Regions from separate parts of the Homo sapiens genome. Here all the other regions are reported to be linked to region 1. The links are microRNA targets in miRTarBase. Many come from high-throughput screens and were not tested one by one. Region 1 holds a microRNA gene; each other region holds the end of a gene's coding sequence.
Evidence for each region. Region 1 holds the annotated microRNA hsa-miR-6509-5p (AUUAGGUAGUGGCAGUGGAAC, at 1,247-1,267, opposite strand). A microRNA usually pairs through its seed, bases 2 to 8, with sites in the 3' UTR of a target mRNA and lowers its output. Matches are read on the target gene's strand: a 7mer-m8 pairs with bases 2 to 8, a 7mer-A1 pairs with bases 2 to 7 and ends in A, and an 8mer does both.

Region 2: the mRNA of MYCN is a reported target of hsa-miR-6509-5p. Seed matches in the 3' UTR shown: 7mer-m8 at 2,503-2,509.
Region 3: miRTarBase lists HOXC8 as a target of hsa-miR-6509-5p. Seed matches in the 3' UTR shown: 7mer-m8 at 1,303-1,309 and 8mer at 1,459-1,466.

The regions. Positions count from the first base shown.
Region 1 is chr7:135,205,798-135,209,053 of GRCh38, forward strand. MIR6509 (microRNA 6509) reads right to left here and starts at 1,281; the gene lies at 1,197-1,281. It overlaps WDR91 (WD repeat domain 91), which reads right to left. Exons shown (of 15, transcript NM_014149.4): 3 at 2,994-3,201; 4 at 1,323-1,405; 5 at 131-261. RefSeq lists a silencer at 1,113-1,272 and an enhancer at 3,062-3,256.
Region 2 is chr2:15,945,837-15,949,092 of GRCh38, reverse strand. It overlaps MYCN (MYCN proto-oncogene, bHLH transcription factor), which reads right to left. Exons shown (of 3, transcript NM_005378.6): 3 at 2,089-3,256. The coding sequence ends at 2,996. Among named protein-coding and RNA genes, the nearest start is that of MYCNOS, 5.8 kb to the right of the region's middle.
Region 3 is chr12:54,010,789-54,014,044 of GRCh38, forward strand. It overlaps HOXC8 (homeobox C8), which reads left to right. Exons shown (of 2, transcript NM_022658.4): 2 at 301-1,981. The coding sequence ends at 593. Among named protein-coding and RNA genes, the nearest start is that of HOXC8, 3.4 kb to the left of the region's middle.

The DNA of each region.
Region 1 (3,256 bases):
TGCCAGGAGGCTCTTCCGCAATTCTCCTTCAGCAGGCACAGAGGACTGCAGGCAAGGCAAGATCAGAGGGAACTGTGGGGCTGAGAGCACAGAGGGCAAAGAAAAGGAAAGGGCCGTCACACACACTCACAGTTCCGAGTCCCCCAGGCGGTCCATGTTGGAGACATAAGGAGGCAATTTGTGTTGGACCAAGGCCTCTTCCTCTTCTGGCTGTTGCTCCTCTTTCTTCAGTCGGTGGATTTCAGCTTGCAATGCAAAAAGCTATACAGGGGTGGGACTGAGTTAGCCAATGATCTCACCTAACCTTCCCTCTGCGGAGGAAGATTTCTAGACACATCGCATCCAAGCCCACTGGTCTGAGTGCCACTCGCCTCAGCGTCAAGGGGCCCATCTCACTCTGCTCACTGCAGACTGGGAAAAGTGACTGCTGTCACTGGACAACAATGAGGTGAGAAAACCAAAAACCATTAGAAATCCAAAACCCATTTTCTTTTTAATCATTTGACTTGCTTCCTCCTAGATTCACTGAGAAAAATAGCTCCACCCAACCTGTTTTGCTTTTTAGAATCTACAAAATCAGGCTTTAGAACTCTCAAAGCCTGACTCTGGAATGGAAAAAAAAAAAAAACCTGTTAATGAACTACAGCGTTTTTAACCTTTTGCCTGAAGAAAATTACATATACACACACCCCAAATCCCAAGAATCTTAAACCCCATAACCTAAACAGCCTATAATCTTCCTTTTCCTAACAATATCACCTAAGGAGATCTTAATTTCAGGAAAGAGAAATGTTCCTCAGGCAACATGTACAGGCAAATGTGGGTCCCCTGGCTCTATTGTTTTATCAAACTAGAGAAGCATATAGCTGAGTAGGAACAACTAAATTATATATGGGTTATAAACTATATATATGTGTGTGTGTGTATATATAGTTTATATATATACATATAGTTTACATATATATGTGTATATATATATACACACATATATAGCTATACGTGGAAAGACAAAACAGACACATGAAAACAGGTTAGTTATAAGGTGGCATGGATGCATATAGTCTTTTTCTCCTTAAAAGTTAATTACTGTTACTATATTGTTCATGCTACATATCTGACTTAAAATATGAATCTCGCCTCTGGTTTTCAGAGACTGTTACTCTCCAAATCCCCAATACTGACTTTCTGGTGACTCATTTCCATCTGAGAAATTAGGTAGTGGCAGTGGAAACCTGATTAATATAGTGTTCCACTGCCACTACCTAATTTCACACACAAAAAGCAGAAGTACTTCCTCAGGAGCAAGCCTGTTCAGAACAAACCTTCTGACGCAGAACTTCATTTTCTTCTTGAACCTGGTTAGTCCTCTGACACTCCGCATCAAAGTTCAGGATCACAGGGACTGGTGCACGAAGTTAAAGAATAAGCCAGCCCCTGAAATGTTTAAACGTCCTTCCCAAACCCTTGACACACCAGTAAAACACATGAGACACAGGGACACAGAGAACAGAGTATAGGAGCGGTGCTGTGGGCTCTTGCGGGCTTAATGAAATAGTCGCTCCCTACAGTCTTGTCTCTAAGACTTTCTCTAGGTCTGGCCTCATTTCATTCGGACAGATTCACAGACGCATGACCATCTGCCTGGCCAGCCCACAGAGGGGACATAAATCCAAACCTAAGCATTTTCTCTCAAATACCAGAAGCAAAGAGCTAGCATCCAGTGGACTTCACAGCCAGTCTGAGCTTTAGTGAGGTCACTACATTCAGCTAAAAGCAGCCCTGGAGGCCAGTGGCTCTGCAGTAATACAGCCAATGAGGCAGAAAAGACCAGTCAGTTGGCTTCGCCTCCCCAGGTTGAGCCTCTCCCTGGCAAAGGTTTGGACTGAGAAGAGAAAGCTTTCTGCAGATTGCGTGGCCACCCCAAGAACAACGACAGTCTATAGCTTGGGATACTGGTCCTTCTCCACTGCCTCAGGCAGCTTCAGTTAGGAGGAGCACAGAGCAGACAGGGCCTCAGAACTGGAGAGGGGACTAGAGCCCATATGTGTGTAAGCTAGTTTGAGAAGCACTGAAAAGATCTTGAGTGACAGTTTCGATTTCACTGGAGGGCCCACAAAGTTAACTGGAGAGCCCTCAGGATGAAGAGAGGGAACAACGGGGAAGAAACAAGGCAGTTCTGGCAAGGGTGGAATTCACACTCATCTGGGGCACAGAAAGGGTGAAGGCAGGAAAGGTGCCCTTCCCACCTCCACCAGAAAGTGTTCCTCCCAGAGGCCAAAACGCCTGCCCATGGGTGGGCCTCTAAACACCCAAGTTTATCAGTGCCTCACCAGCCAGCCCCATTCAAGCCAGACTCCCTTCTCCTCCTCTAAATTTCCAGCCTAGGGAGCATGAACAATGGCCTTGGGAGCTCTGGCTTGTACACTTGGTAGGCTGTAAATTATTTACCTGCATTCTCATTCATTCCCCCTCTCCAATACCCGCATATATATTCTTAAAGCTACTGTGTTCTCTGGCAACTTGAGGAACACTGAAGTTACTATTAGAGACAATAACCCAAACACTAACACAGACAGAAGTTCCAACCCAAGAAGTCTTCTCATCTGTACCTAATCCCAGCAAAGGTATATCCCCGGGAACACGTTTCATGCACAGAGAGGGTACTCTCAAGGCTGCCCGGTTTCTCCAAGCAGCAGCTGCCTTCCAACCCCAGTGCCTGCTGACAAAGCCAGTACTAGCACCCCACTGCTGCCACTGTCACTGCCCACACGTCAGCTAATACTTCAGCAGCACAGTGTCAGAACTAAGATTTATGATTCCCTGGCTTACTGACAAAAACAACCACAATTTGTCCAGCCCCCTCATGTGACCCATAAAAATGGTCCCTGGGCATTTTTGTAGAAGAAATGCCTGTATGGAGACCAGCGGGCTACTGATCCTGAGGTCTGGGTGCCTCAGGCTGGGCCTTCAGCCCCAGGCAACTGAAAGGATATGCATGCACTGAAACAGGACGCTCAGGAAGTTGTGCAGGGACACAATGAAGGTGTCAGCCCACTGTCGAGAAAAGTAGGTAGCAAAGGTGGGGTTGGTGTCCGGGGATGGCAGGAAGGGCAGGACAAACCAATCCTTCCACTCAGCCTGGTTCTGGAGTTCCGTGGCCTGCTTTGCAAAGAACTCCTGAGCCTTGTCATTTCTGTTTGTCTGCCAAGACACAAGGAGGTAGCAAGGAGGGAGGAGAGACAGAAATCCAGAGGTA
Region 2 (3,256 bases), not on the chromosome of region 1:
CAAATATGGGATTTTTTCACTTTAGTTTTAATCCTTTAGGTGCATATTTGTGGTCCACCTAATGCAAAAACGTTTCATGTTATATACTACATTATATACATTAAAAAGATGACTAACCTAACAATGGAAAACAAGAAACCGTAAACATTTAGAAGAGAATGACCACTGGAGATGTTAGAGGGGGTGGAATTTGGCTCTGAGCTTCCCAGCAGCCCGAGCAAAAAGAGAGCATAGTAGGAATTGTAGTTTAGTGGCCTCATTCATATGAACAGTTTTCTTTCTTCACGGTTAAGCATTCCATTTCATTGGACACACTCAGGTAGGTTCCTTATGGTAATCACAAATAGAGAAACTGGGATGACTGAGCTGGGCTTCAAGAATCTTAGGTACACAATTAATGTGAGGTTGCTTAACTTTCTTTTGGCTCTTGCACACACACAGGGGCAGAGGCCGTGAGTGATTTGGGGCCTGTAAAATGCAAACGAACGGAAGTTTTTTGAATGACAATTCAAAAAGAAAGGGTGCATTATTTTTTAGTCTGGGGATGGGGACTAGGAGAATTAAAGGGCATTTTATCTTATTTTCTACATGGCGAGACCATCAGAAAGATGTCCATGGTAGTATCACCAACCTCGTATCTCAAGGGTGTGCGATAAGCAGGATAAGGAGGACTGAGTTCTAAACTCCTACTTGCCTTTATAAAATGACCAAAGCGGCTGGGCATGGTGGTTCACGCCTGCAATTCCAGAACTTTGGGAGGTCGAGGTAGGTGGATCACAAGGTCAGGAGATCGAGACCATCCTGGCTAACATGGTGAAACTTGGTCTCTACTAAAACTGCAAAAAATTAGCCGGGCATGGTGGCACACACCTGTAGTCCCAGCTACTCAGGAGGCTGAGGCAGGAGAATCGCTTGAACCCGGGAGGCGGAAGTTGCAGTGAGCCGAGATTGCACCACTGCACTCTAGCCTGGGCACCAGAGTGAGACTCCATCTCAAAAGAAACAAATAAAAATGACCAAAGCAGACAAGGACACATGGCTTGGTGTCTCCCATCTCTGCCCCTGACAAACTGTGTGTCCAGGCAAGCAAAGCTGTCTCATCTCTGGACCTGCTTTCTTCTCAGTGAAGCAAAAGGCCTTTTTCTTTTTTTTCGGCTCACAGTTAAAAATCTGAGATGAACAAAACCCTAGAGAAATAACCGAGTACAACCTGACACTCAAAAGAGAAATAGGTTATTTGTACACTTTTAGTTCTGAGAAGCTGCTTACAAGCAAGGCTCTTATGTCCCAACAGGTAAACTATCTCCTTAACACACAAGTCTTGGCTCTGTCTTCTGGAGCCTGCAAGATTGATCCCATTTCCAAAGGGCAGCCCAAGTAGCCAAGACACTGCTGTGTAATAGGAATGGCAAGTAGAGAGCCATGCCACCCATATGGGGTCTCCATTGTGACCCCAGGGTCTCTCCTGCACCTGGTACTTGCTCTGGACTACGTAACTGTCACTCGTGAATTACACTTTGGTGAATCAGGTTGAGTTCATTGAAGGGAGGAACCCATTTCCATCTGTTTATTCTGCTTACTCTGCTTAGCCTAGAACCTCCACAGATCCTAGTGAATGTTTTTAACAATGAATTCTTGGAGACAAACTATGCTCTACCTTAAAATAGAAGACTGTCTGCCAATGGGACGAATACTACCAAAGCCCAATACAAGCGAGTTAAACAACCCTGTGGCTATTTTTACTTTTCTTTTAAAGGGACTGATCTGAGGTCTCAGCTTAATTCCACTAAGGAGCCACAGTATACAGAAGTGCTCTGTAAATTATCAAATGCCATTGCTACAATGCACACAATAGTCGCTAATAACATCTCTATTCTGCATAATCTTGGAGAACTGCCTTAATTTCCCCAAACTCAGTTCCCTCCACCTTAAGTGGGGACAATGACTCATGCCCCCCAACCAGGATTGTACAGGTGCAAAAAGGGCTATTTACGGAAACCAAATTCCCTCTATAGGTTATGGATTATTTATGGTTGCTCCTTAAGGGACAGAGTGTAATGCCATTAAGGAAAAGGTTGAGTTGCATCATTTAATTTTAAGCTATTTATTTTCATAAACATGAGGTATTTCAAAGTGCTATAAGATGCAGCACTAAATATATACATTTTGAAGAAATTAAACACAGAACTTTGCATTTACCCAGTTCTATGCACCAAACATGAACAAATACATTAACAGGAAGAAACAGGCTAGGAAAAAGGCATATATATATAGTAAATTTCTTTACAAAAGTTTCTTAGTTCAAAAAGTGATAAAGTAATATCTACTCAAAACTTTCACAACTCATTTTCATACGAAAATATAAGTATCAAATTTAGTTATGTATCAGCGTCATACTAAAGTATACAGGCAGTGTAAGAATTAGTACAGTACATAACAGAGATTAACAATATATTTGTATACAAAACATGCTCCTCAAACATTGAGGTATTATTACAGTACTTAGGTATGAACTTCCAGTCTAATACTGGCCGCAAAAGCCACCTCTCATTACCCAGGATGTATACAAAAGGCGGATGTGTCAATGGTATTTACAGAAATGTTCCCCAGGGGTATCAAATGGCAAACCCCTTATGTGGCATCTGCTGGAACTTAAGCACCATTTTAAAAAGAAGGAATGACTTTCTGTTGTTTGGAAACTTGGAACACACAAGGTGACTTCAACAGCCCCAGAGGCTCCCAACCGTCACCAACGTTTAGCGCTGTCATGGAGGTGAGGTGGAGGAGGCTGCAGGGCCACCCAGCATCCTGGGATGCAGGCTCTCCAAGGTCCCAGCAGAACCCCACACTGGTGGTCCTACTGCCCACCCAGAGCCGAACTCGACAGGGGACCGATTTGAAAGTAAACCAACATTCTTAATGTCAACACAATGTTTGTTTAAAAAAAAAATCAAAATGTGCAAAGTGGCAGTGACTGTCCAGTTTTGAGAAGCGTCTAGCAAGTCCGAGCGTGTTCAATTTTCTTTAGCAACTGCTGCTGTCTTGCCTGCAATTTTTCCTTTTCCAGCAAAAGCTGGTGCTCCTCGGCCTGGAGGGAGTGGACATACTCAGTGGCCTTTTTCAAAATGACCACCTTGGCGGCCTTCTCATTCTTTACCAACTCCGGCACGTGGTCCCTGAGCGTGAGAAAGCTGGACCGAAGGTCGTTGCGGCGCTGGCGCTCCAGGATGTTGTGGTTTCTGCGACGCTCACTGTC
Region 3 (3,256 bases), not on the chromosome of region 1:
AAAGGCCAGTTCCTAGGATTACAGGCCTGGTGGGGGGGATTCTACAGGGCTCCCCAGCCCCTGAAAGGCCCCAGTTTCCAAACAGACCCTAGCCCCCACCCCCACCCCACCTCCCAAGGTGAAGCCAAACAAAAACAATCCCCCAACTTTTCTGCCCTTGTCTGCCTTCTGCTCTAGCCTTTTCCATAGAGGGGAGGCGAACTGAGGAGATCAGAGAGGGGAGTTTAGAGTAGGAAGAGTGGCAAAGGAAAACCAAGCCCCCATCCAAACGTAACCAGACTGGGGTTTTCTTCTGTCCAGCTCCGGGGAGGCGCAGTGGACGGCAAACTTACAGCCGGTATCAGACCTTGGAACTAGAAAAGGAGTTTCTCTTTAATCCTTATTTGACACGAAAACGTCGGATTGAAGTCTCTCATGCCCTGGGACTGACCGAGAGACAAGTGAAGATCTGGTTCCAGAACCGAAGGATGAAGTGGAAAAAGGAGAACAACAAGGATAAACTGCCGGGAGCCCGAGATGAGGAGAAGGTGGAGGAAGAAGGAAATGAGGAAGAGGAGAAAGAAGAGGAGGAAAAGGAAGAAAACAAGGACTAAGCAAAAAAGAAAGACCCCCCCCCCCTTAGCAACTCCCTTGAAGTTTCGTTTTATGGTAGCAGATAAATTGAGAAGTTTACGACTGTCATTTGCTTTTATAGAGAATAGAATGACACTCACAACTCTAACTACCTGTCAGATACTTGCAGCTCTGGTTTTATTACCTTTGGACTTCCCCCACTCTTTATTTGTTTGGGGGCTGGAGGGGGGAGACGGAGAAACAGTGAAAAGTTCGGACTCTCTGTCTCACTCCTTGCCCCACACACACTTGTCCCTGCCCCCACCCTTCTGAGTCCTTCCTGGATTTTAAGGTCTGAGACCTGGCCTCCGTGCTCCTCGGTCTGTCTCTCACCACACTCCCACCTCCCTGCTTCTCTGGTATTTATTTTAGAGGGGAGCCCCCTCGAAATGCAGAAAAGGACTTGTGGTTTTGTTTTTATGCTAAGGCTAGTGTACTAGATGTACTTTTTCTAAAAAGGAAAGGACAGAAAAAAATGAAGAAAGGAAAGGAAGACAAATGTAAAGAAATAAGGAAAAAAGCAAGGAATATCCCCTCCCCCTCCCCCTCCCCCTCCCCAGGGCTCCCTGCTTAGAAAAACCCCCTTGACTTTCTCTAGGAACCTGATGGAAACCTGAAGGAGATGTGGGTCTTTCCCCTCCCCCCATTTCCAGAAGGGTAGATAGGAGCCTGCAGTCGCCTCTAAAATCCTACCTAACCATCCCATGGTCACTCGGGCCCATGCCTTCCTCTCCTTCGCTGTTTGATTTCTATTCTGTTGGGCCCGCCTTCCTCTGAGCTGCATTAGTGTTAGTGCTCAGAAATCACCATAATCACGAAAATAATAATAATAAATCTTTAACATACTACCTAAAGGGAACCTGCAATAATCTTGAAAAAGAAAAAGAGAAAAATTTTAAAATCCTGCTATAGGAGAAAAAAAGAGAAAAAAATAAAAATCAAAAAAAAAAAAAAGAAAGAAAGAAACCTCCAGCGTATTTTATCACTACCTATAGAAAGAAATCCTGCTTTGAGAGTATTTGTAATGCGGTTTTGTTGTCGTTTGTTGCTGCTTATTTCACTAAGAAAACCCAACAACTGAGACTGCCTAGCCCGCCGGTCCTGTGCGCTTTTATTGTGCTTCTAACCCCAGTAGAGTAGAACTAAATTGCACTGAATGTATAGTTAACTCTGTCTTGAATTCTCTGTTTATGCAATGTGCTCGAAAGAAAAAAATGTTAAAAATATATCTATAATAATAATTTTTTGTCATTTGTCTTTATGTCCAGCTATGAATGTAGATTTTGTGTCCCGACAGCCCTGTTCCTGGTCCAAGTACTTTGTATTGTATACGTGAGTCATAATAATAAAAAGAAGAAGAAAAATAATAGAAGCTGGAATGACTTGCTTTTTCTCCACAGCTCTTCCCTATTCTCTACCTTCTCTCTCCTTATCCCCCTGTCCAACTCTCTGGAAAAGGTCTGCTTCACTGCTCTGGCTTTGGGGTTCAGAAACTCACGTGGAGAGAAGCCTGGGAATTGAGAAAGCATGCTGGCCTGGGAGGGCAGGTGAAAGGGGTGAGGGGTTGAGAGGAGGAAGAAAAGGAGCAGTCCATTGGTTGAGAGAGTAAGGAGTCTATAGGTATGCCCTTGGGGGAATCTTGGCTCCAAACAAAGTGGGTTTCCAGACGCCAGGATCCCAATGGGAAGAAAGATTTCCTCACTCATCCACCCTCCTCCTCCTCAGCCTTGGGCTGGGCCCAGACAAAGAATCTGCCCTATGCAACTATGACTTTTTCTTCCAGGGTCTGGGGCTGAGGATGAGATAGTGGGATTCCTTCTGATCTCCGCATGCCCCTTGTGGCCAGACCTTAGCACCCAGCACCCAGCACTAGAATAATGAACCGGGTGGGGATGTGTGAGGCTCAGGGCAACTGGCTGGCCTGTCTGCAGGGCTTGCCTGAAGATGGGGGATGCTAAGAATGGAGGGTGAGGAAGCTTAAGCCTGAAGGAGAGGAGAAAGGAAGGGGAAAGTAAGTGAGCTCGTAGGCAACCAGCCTGAGCCCACATCCTGAAATTCACATTCAATCCTCTGCACAGGAAGATTGTCATCACTGTCATTCAGCCCGCTTGCATCCACTCCAACTTCTGTTCAGACGGTTTAAAGTCCACTCCCCACTTCACCTTGGCAATTGGTCAGCTTACCCAGCCCCCATAGTGTGGGCCATTGGCCTGGAGGATGGGCCTGCTGAGTGGACATCCTGCCACCCCAGTCACAGCGGGGTAAGAGGGCGTCTTTATTGGTATCTTCATTCCCCAAAATGAAGAATTGAAGGCTCAGGGACCCAGGGGGTAGAAGGGTCTCTCACTTCTCTCTGGAGAGTCCTGGACTTAAAAATTCTGTTTATGCCAATAAGATTCTGGTCAAATAATCCCAAATTCCAGAGATACAAGTCTTCTGACTCAGTCAGGAGAGGGGAAAAGGGAGGGGAGGGATCTTCTGGTCTTAAAAACCAGACCCCCGAAGGCTGAAATATTTTTGAGGCCAGATTTTCTTTCTTTCTTTTTCTCTTCTCTTCTCTTCTCTTCTCTTCTCTTCTCTTCTCTTCTCTTCTCTTCTCTTCTTTCTCTCTCTCTCTCTCTCTCTCTCTCTCTCTCTCTCTCTC